2 separate regions of the Homo sapiens genome follow, and region 2 is linked to region 1. The links come from fine-mapping of genetic effects on gene expression. A gene starts in region 1. The other region holds a variant in brackets. All regions are shown on one strand. Distances are from middle to middle. Region 1 holds the start of AGBL5 (AGBL carboxypeptidase 5). Region 2 overlaps MAPRE3 (microtubule associated protein RP/EB family member 3).

The links. PIP is the estimated chance that this variant, and not a neighbour inherited with it, causes the effect. A credible set is the group of variants that fine-mapping cannot tell apart.
Region 2: its variant is the best candidate, but not a certain one, in a credible set for the expression of AGBL5 in whole blood (TOPMed, PIP 0.59).

The regions. Positions count from the first base shown.
Region 1 is chr2:27,050,064-27,054,450 of GRCh38, reverse strand. AGBL5 (AGBL carboxypeptidase 5) reads right to left here and starts at 2,783. Exons shown (of 15, transcript NM_021831.6): 1 at 2,658-2,783; 2 at 1,278-1,538; 3 at 878-1,049; 4 at 392-555. The coding sequence starts at 1,492. AGBL5-AS1 (AGBL5 antisense RNA 1) reads left to right here and starts at 4,187. Exons shown (of 2, transcript NR_046730.1): 1 at 4,187-4,271. TRY-GTA2-1 (tRNA-Tyr (anticodon GTA) 2-1) reads right to left here and starts at 3,669; the gene lies at 3,581-3,669. It overlaps TRA-AGC8-1 (tRNA-Ala (anticodon AGC) 8-1), which reads right to left and starts at 3,237; the gene lies at 3,165-3,237. RefSeq lists silencers at 2,283-2,332, 2,353-2,792, 3,196-3,490, 4,193-4,387 and enhancers at 2,529-3,028, 3,343-3,572, 3,743-4,032.
Region 2 is chr2:26,978,453-26,982,839 of GRCh38, reverse strand. The region is part of intron 1 of MAPRE3 (microtubule associated protein RP/EB family member 3); the gene reads right to left. Among named protein-coding and RNA genes, the nearest start is that of MAPRE3, 10 kb to the right of the region's middle. RefSeq lists an enhancer at 194-253. The variant A/G (reference allele first, on the strand shown) is at 1,663.

The sequences.
Region 1 (4,387 bases):
GAGTACAGGACAGGGTGAACTTGTTGTTCCCCAGTTTGTGGCTTCCTAGAATAGATTACTTAATGTAGTCGGAGTTGTTCTCCGTGGGGGCAGATAAAAAAGGTATACTGAGTCACATAATGCTGGCTAAACTCTGGATAATTAATGGGAGCTGGGCTAGTAAGAGGTCTGAACTGGGCAGGTGAAAGAGTGGAGGGCAGGTGTCGATATGCTGAGATCAGGGTCATACAGAAACATAGTTTTCAAAGGTACCCAAAGTCCTGTCTGTACATTCTGTACAGAAAAAAGACGGATGAAAGTATGGTTCAGAGCTCTAAGAGCAAATTCCAGAAGTAGTGGAGGTGCTGTCTGATCCAGGACTGTGTGGCAGGAGTAAGAATGGGGCTGGCACCTGCTATGGGTAGGGTGGTTCTCCGGAAAGCGCTGGTCTAGCTGGTTTAGCAGTTCCTGGCAGTCACTGTAGGAGAAGGGGTAGCAGAAGGCGAAGAAGGTGGTGGCCCCACGGCCCTCCACGAAACGATGAACAAAGGATAACACAAACTGCGTCTCTGTCATCTGAAGAGCAGAGGAGGAAGAGGGAGGGGCAACATGCCATTGTCAGAACTGAGCTCCTACTGGGACCACCAGGAACTGACCTCACACCCTTATCACCTTTACCAACTTCCCTCCCTGTGACACTTTCTATATGAAAAGTGGCTCCTTCTAGGCTTCCTGAGGCAGGGGCTCATCTTGGACTCTAGCTAACACTGGAGAAAAAGCTGATACTTAAACCTGTTGTCCCACCTGCTTCATACTTGTATCAAGGAAAAAAAAACGCTTTACTTTCCTCTCTACTTTTAGCACCCAAGTCTTTCTTTCCTCCTCATGGAGAACTTACCTCAAAGGTGGGCCGGTCTCGAATGCGTTCCCAGCGTGGCCGGGTGGGCAGTGTGCGCACAAAGGGGGCCATGCCCTGGGAATACAGCTTGCTCTGCTTGTTCATGTTCATAATGTTGATCTTGATGAGTTTTCCTGGCATTCCTCCCCGGACGCTGAAGTAGAACCATGACCTGAGGACCAGAGTAAGAGAGAGGTCATTACGTGTGGAAGGGTTGGAGATATGGTCTGTGGGAGAGCCGGAGCCAGCCAAACTGGGAAAGGGCTATTTGGCAAGGAGAAAGGAGGGACGATGGGTCAGAAATGGACAGGGAGTATGCTGGGTATGAACAGATAAGTCAGAGGGCTAACTGAAGCATGGGTTTGGAGCCTTTTTCCACCCTCCATTTCGTTCCATATACCTGTTCCCATTCTCAAATTCCGTTTCAGCACAGTCTGGTCGGGTCCACACGTTGAATTCATAGTCAGGGGAAGAGGCAATGCCACTGGTCAGGGCTGACGCCCCACCTCCTACCCCTTCCCCATCACTGGACAAAGATTCCACCTTCTCCACGTGGGCTAGATTCCCTGAATCAAAGCGAGAACTGAACAGCAATCCCCCACAGCGCAGCTCCATGGTGGGGCTGGGAAAGCATCCTCCTGCCCCGCTCTGGCCCTGAGAGCTGGGGGAAAACAAGGGTTAGGTTAAGGAGGAAAGGGAAGACAAATCGAAGAGTTTTCTGGGTATCTCTTGATAAATAAGAGCTATTCTTAGGGAGTGCCCTATGAAACAAAAGGCTGTCTCCCTCTTAGAAAACATAGAAGTGGTCTTCCAGCAAAGGCCAAGAGAAAGCAGCATTCTGTACCCCAACACTAAGGGTTGTAAATGACCTAAAGGGACCCCATTTTACTTTAGCTTGGCTGTTCCCAAATAAAACTCAGTGGCTTAACTATGTTGAAAAACACTAAACTCTCAGCTGCTTTGCAGCCCAAAGATTAGAGAATATAATCAGAGAGGTCAGATTTTCCAAACCTAGCCAAGATACACTCACCACCATACATGGCCACCTTTAGAGATGGGCCGTTCTGGATCTCTGGCTCTGCACTCTCCAGCACAGAGCAGAGAGAGGAATCGAGGTTCTGAGTGTAAATGGGTAGTCCTCTCTCCAGCCTCTGTCCTCACAAGTACTGAGCGGACATTCTGGTGTTGCTCCCCTGAGCCCTGGAAGGGCTGGTTCTTCCTTTTTTGTTCCTACCTTATGCCTAGTATGGAGAAAAACTATAACAGTGGTGCCTCTGCCAAGCCAAAGGCTACTGGGCTCACCTAGCGACTGGAGCTCCCTTCCAGCCAGGGCATGGGTCTGTTTCCATCCCCCTCCGCCCCGTAAGCACTGCACCCTGAGAAAGCTACCCTAGTAGCTGTGGATGAGTAATGGGTGTTCTCAGCACCCCTAAAAGAGGTGGGCTGCTAGAGTCCCACTCGGGGGAAGGAGGCTGGCTTCTCCACCCTCGACTCGCGGGGAACCGTCACACCGAGCGGGCTTGCCCTGGGCAGGGTGGGACTGGGAGGCATGGAAGGGGTCGAGACGGGCTCCCGCGGCAGGGGATTAGGCAGGGAGGGCCTAGGAGTCAGAGGTGAGGCCACGGAGCTGGGCGGGGTCGGGACCGCGTAAGCCAGGTCGGGAGCGGGGTGCGGGGTGGCCTTCGAGGGGCTCGGGCTCAAGGGGCTGAGAGAAGGGGGCGGGGCCGGGGCTGGCGGGGCCGGGGCTGGCGGGGCCCGTAGTCCGCGCAGAGCCCCTCACCTCTCTCCGGGCCGGTGATCCCGCTCCCTCTCCCGCTAGCGAGGCCGCACCTTGGGCCCCGGCACCCGGGCCCTCCACCCGGGCCCCCAAAAACACCCGAGCGCCGCGGTGCCGGGACCCCGCTCTGCCAGGAAACAAGAAGTCTCTCGCCTATTGGCCGTGGCTGCAGCTGGCGACCCGCCCAGTAAAGCTCGCTACCATTGGTCAGCTCTCAGGGTTCCTCGCACGTTAGTGGGTACCTGAGCGAGTGTCGTTCGGGGACGATGGCGGGCAGGAGCGGCCGGAGGGTTCTAGCAGCGTCTTCCGGAAGACGGTTAACGGCCTGCCTGCCGGGAGGCGGGAAAGATAAAGCGGCAGAAACTGGGACTCAACTGCGAAATAAAAAGACATCGTGTGAAACTCCTTATCGCTTAACAGTCTTGTGTCTCTAAAATGAAACACGTAGCCCACTGCGCCGGGAATCCCTCCCGTTTTGTGTTCTGTAGTGTGACGGACGCAAAAGCTGAGTGGAGGATGCGGGCATCGATCCCGCTACCTCTCGCATGCTAAGCGAGCGCTCTACCATTTGAGCTAATCCCCCGCCTGCTGCTTAGTTCTTTCCCTTTGCCTTACAGGTTCACTGCACTGTTCACTGACCAGTGGATCAACCACAGTTCAGGACATTTATTTAGCAGAGTACAATACAGTGGCATCCATGTGCAAGATTCTAAAAATCAAGCATATAATCGTGTGCTTAAGCAGAAAACATTCTAAAACACGTTACCACATGTACATTGAACGCAGAAAGAGCGTTACCGTATACTACATACTACGGTGTTCCCTATGGACTGACGGCAGTACGAATGCTAAGTCACAGGAGGCCTCCAAGCCTTTCCCCTTATGGGATAATTGAATTAAATTGAGGTTAAAAATTACAGACGAAGTCCTTCGAGCCGGAATCGAACCAGCGACCTAAGGATTGCCACGCCCTATCCACTACAGTCCTCCGCTCTACCAACTGAGCTATCGAAGGCTCCGCTGCGATAAGATGCTGCTGATAGCCCTCTAATGCTTACCGCAACCTCATCCAGCCATGACCCCCGCTTTCTCCAGCTGAAGGAACCTGCCAGGGCAGGAGACCCATGGGACCTCACAGAGCTGAGAAAGCCGGAGACCCAAAGGCAAGGAAAAGAAGCTGCCCAAAGTCCGGGTTCTCAGGCCAGAACGGAGGCCACACCGGCCCTGAGCTTCCCGGCTTTTTAACAAAATGTTCCCAACACCCCGCGGTGGTTTCTCCTGGACCGCGAACGCCGAGCCCGCCGCCGCCTCCTGGAGCTCCGGGGCAGCGCTTGTGCCGCGGTACCTGCACTCACAGGGGCTTTGCGACCGCGACGCGCAAACCCTGCTCGAGAGCCGATGGGCCACTTTGGCTGCTCCTGCTCCACATTTCCCTTGGCTTCTCCGGACGTGCTCTCCTGACGCGAACGACATTCGCTCGGCCAATTAACTCAGGTTTTGTCAGGCTCTATTCGTCCTGACCAGTGCAAGAGAGACGGCGACCGCGGGGTGCTGCAGGCTTCGGCGCGGCGCATTATCGGGCTGTGCCGAACCCCCCGGGCCGCCCTGGGATCGCGGGCCTGGCGGCGTGGCCCGAGGGCTCGGGGAGAGGGCTACGCGCCAGGAGAGGGCGGCGGGGCTGCAGTACAGGCTTTCCTGCCCTCGGAAGCGCTCGCAAGCCTGGGGGATTCCCC
Region 2 (4,387 bases), 72 kb after region 1:
TGGACAGCAACAAATATGCCTTAGAAATCCATTCATTCTGCAATTATTTGTTGAGCCCCAGATACTGCTAGGTCTCACATGGTCCCTGCCTCATGAAGCTAGTTATCTAGTGAAATGGATAAACAGTAGTAAAATAATCATTCTACCTAATTATAGGCCAAGGGCTAATTATTCTCAGGTAGGCTGACTAGGTGGAAAGAGAAAAGAACAGTGGCAGGAGGCTGTGTTTATAGAGAGTCCATTTAATTCCACAGGCAACACAATGCACTTTTGCTCCTGCCCCACCTGGCTTGAGGCCTGTACTGCAAGCTGTTTGTTCCTTCCTGGTAGGGACTGGCAGGGAGCCATACTTCTGCTTAGGTCCTGGCTTTCATGAAACGGGACTACAAAATGTCCAGGCAAGGTAATGTCAGTGTAAGGCCCTGGAAAGAAAGCAGCCCTAGCTTTTCCGTTTCCACAGGTTGACTCCTGCACCTGACTTTCCACATATTCCCACCTAGTTAAGTCCCCTGCTATCAGCCCCTGTGGCTGCTTTGCATGGTGAGCTGTGTAAATGGCTTCAGTTGTGCAGCATGAAAGTAATGTGAATCCAGCAGGTGGAATAAAGACCACAACCCAGGGTGTTAGACAGGGTCAGAGTCAAAGTGAATGATCTAGGAGGACATGAGAAAGAGAGGGGTCAGAGGAGGAAAGGACTTTAGGCCAAGTTTCATAATAGGCAAGAGAGAAACAGGGCTGTTATAAACAGTTGTACACTTTGTACACTGCACAAAGCACCTTGTGGAGGAGATGAGGGCTGGAACCCTCACAAAATGAGTAGAACCCAAGCTCCACTCACAAAACTGCATTCCTAGCAAGGGACTCTATCTGTCTGGAGGAAGAACCTTCACTCACAGAGGCCAGAGAGGCATGGCTCAGTAGGGATCTGCTCAGAGAGTTGGAAACCACCAGACTCACGCAACAGCACATCTAAGAGTCGACTGTCAAGCCTGGGAAGATGGGCCTCCTTGGATTTTGAACACTACTGGAGTGTAGGTGGAGGAGGGCTGCTGGCTGGGTGCCACTCTTTTGTGACAAGCTGAGACCACAGAAGCCACTGGCTGACACGTGGAGGCTCCTTAGAGGCCCAGCACCTTTTCAAGGTAGGCTCCATGATCCAGCTCCATCTTCATTTCTCCTTCATCCATCTCAGCAATCCAGCCACACCCGGAAGGCACAGCTCGACTCCTGAGATTTCAAATATTCCTTTAAGAAATGTTAGTGGTTACACGTCTGTGTTAGAAACGTAAACATTATACAAAGATGAACAAAAGTAAAAGAAGCCTCTGCCAAATTTTAATATGAAAATCTTCCTCTGTCAGTGGCCTCCTTACTGCTCATCCCTCATATTCTAAACCTGTTTTCCGTTCCCACTGGCCCCTGTAATTCCTCTGCCTCCTCATTCTGGCTGACAACCAGCGCCTGTCTTCAACTTGTGGCCCTTCCTCTACCTCCGGCCTTAGGGCCAGCTACTTCACTGCATCTTAAGTTTTGACTCCTCAGAAACCTTGCCCTGAACATGCCAAGCAACACCCATTCCTGGTGCCCGTCCCCACTCACTGCTGCTTCTCTGGCCAGAGGACTTTAAAGACTCAGCCCATTATGAATTCATAGGTCCAATGC[A/G]GCATTCACAATAAGACCTTTATTCATCTCTCATATGCCCAGACTTATTTCTCACTGTGGGTAATTCAGACCTTCAAGAACTCAATTCCCCACCAACCCTCTCCCTCCCCCACCTCAGCAAGTGGCCTTGGCTCTATTTTACTAAAGAAAGAAAGGTCTTTTCTTAGGAGGAACCCCAGTAATCTATCCTGGACTTCACCCTAAAAGTCAGGGGTAGAAAGAGCCATGCCCTCTTCTCTTCAAAGGAACCTTTCCCTGGGATCCTAAAGATCATTCCTTTTTGCTTTATTTCTCTCTTGTCTGTGTACTATTTTCTTTGGATAACTCCTTTTCCCTTCTGCCATTAAACATGCTCAGACCTCCTTCTTATAAAAAATGATTCTTCGTCAATACCAAACTTTTACTCTAATTGAAAGTTGGTTAGATCACCATGAAGAACGTTGTATAAAAAGCTTATTTAAAAAATCGTACCCTTTGCACCTCTGTAATTCACTTTATGGAATATACCATGAATAAATAATCCACAAAAGAAAAAAATGTCACTTGTACAGTAATGTTCAAATCAGAGATATTTACACTTGCAAAATACTCCAACTGCCCAACAACAGATTGAGGTTAAGCATACTGGTATCAATATGATGGGATACCACCAAAGGAATGAAATATGTGAAGTTACAAATATATGGATTATGTCAATATAGAGAAGTCTGCAGATGAAGCACATTTTAATACACAAAATATATTTTAAGAACCACATACTACAATTTTATATGTTTGCTGATAAAGAATAGAATTATTTTACAAAAATAAAATATTTGATTCGATTGCTTCTTCTGGTTACTACTTTCTTTCCCTCCCTGCTGCCATTCTCTGGTGACCAGCCATTGCTTCTATTTTTCTCTGTCAATTTTCCCCTTAAACCACTCCAGTGTTTTACTGAATGGATACCCTAAGCAATCATCATGACTGCCTTCTAGTTAAATCCTTAAATCTAGTTAAATCAGCAGCACTGAAACTCTCTTCCAGACATTTTCTCTTCCCTTGCTGCTGAATCATCCTAATTTCCCACCATCTTGTTCCTTTTTTCCTAACTATGGACAGTTCTCAAAGCTTATTACTTGGGGCTCTGGTCTTTGTACTCTGCATGCAAGACCTCTGGAGAGATTCCTTTGAGGGAATCCAGCCCTCCTCTGTGCTGCTGACTCCCACTCTACAGCTCCATCCACAACCTGACCCTCAGCTTCCGGTTCTATGAGATCACTCAACTTGGATGTCCTGCAACCCACAGTCACGTTGTTTTTAGCTCTCTGTGTCTAAAAAGCAACTCCTTTCCAAACTGTCTCTTCAAACTTCCTAATTTCTGGTTAATGTCACCAATATTCTCCAAACTCAAAACCAGCACACATCCTCAGTCTGGTAAGGCTGCCCTGCCTACAAACCCCACCACACCCCTTCCCACGGCCATTCCTTTGCTGATGCTGTACCTTGCCTCCTGAAAAGCCCTCTCTGGTGTTCTGTCAACTCACAGCCTGCTCATCCTTGAGACAAGGTCAGGTTCTGCTTCCTTTGTGAAGTCTTGTCTTTTTTTAATAGAGATTGGCCCTTACTCTGCCACCCAGGCTGGAGTGCAATGGCATGATCATAGTTCACTGCAGCCTCAAACTCCTGGGCTCAAGCCATCCTCCTGCCTTGGCTTCCCTAGTAGCTGGGACTATAGGTATATGCCACCATGCCCGGCTAATTTAAAAACAATTTTTGTAGATGGGGTCTCGCTATGTTGCTGAGGCTGGTCTTGAACTCCTGGCCTCAAGTGATCCTCCCCCCTTGGCCTCCCAAAGTGTTGGTATGACAGGCGTGAGCCATTGCACCTAGACTGAAGTCTTTTCTGATTACTCCAGTTCACAATGATTATTTTCCTCTCAGCATCCTTTTGGAATTTAGACTCTGTAGTACCAGTGACACCCAATGCACTGTTCTTTTCATTTCTTTTGCCTCTCTTCCTCAGCTGTCCTCTGATGAGTCTCCACATCAACCTGCACACCCAGCTCCAGTGTGTCTTCATCTCTGAAGTCTTTCTGGTTCTCACAGGCTCAGGGTGACTCTTCCTTCTGGCTTACCAAAGCACCCTTTCCCATAGCTGATAAGGTTCCATCCCCTCATGTTACAGTGACATACAGTTTTGTGTCCAACTCTTTTGCCAGAATATTAGCTGAATTCCTTAAGGGCTGACACTGTGTCTTATAGAATAAGGCACCAAAGATGTGTTTCTGACATGCAATATTGTCATATGCACTAATCATTCCATATATCCATCTTGTCTTCCACACACATTACAGCCTCCTCATGGACAAGGGTTGAGTCTCATTTCCTTTATATCCCATAGTGACTAACAATACAAAACAGAGAAAGGGCTTGATGAAGAATACGTGCTGAGAGCATGCTTACATGTCTTGTGAAGATGATATGCAAATTTATATGAATAATCTGTAAACCTGGGAACTATACTTTTGGGGTAATAGAAGTCTTATCAAGTTGTCTCAAGACACTGTACCTTGCTATTTTGGGGCCAGCATAACACATCTCTGTACTTAGCAGTGATCCTGTCACTTAAGAGTGTTAATAGGATGCCTAAACTGAGAGCTTTCAGCTATGAGCTCTAAGCATCTAAAATCAGAACAAATCAAGGACCAAATCAGAGTCCCAGGTAAGTGTCAATAACCTTCAG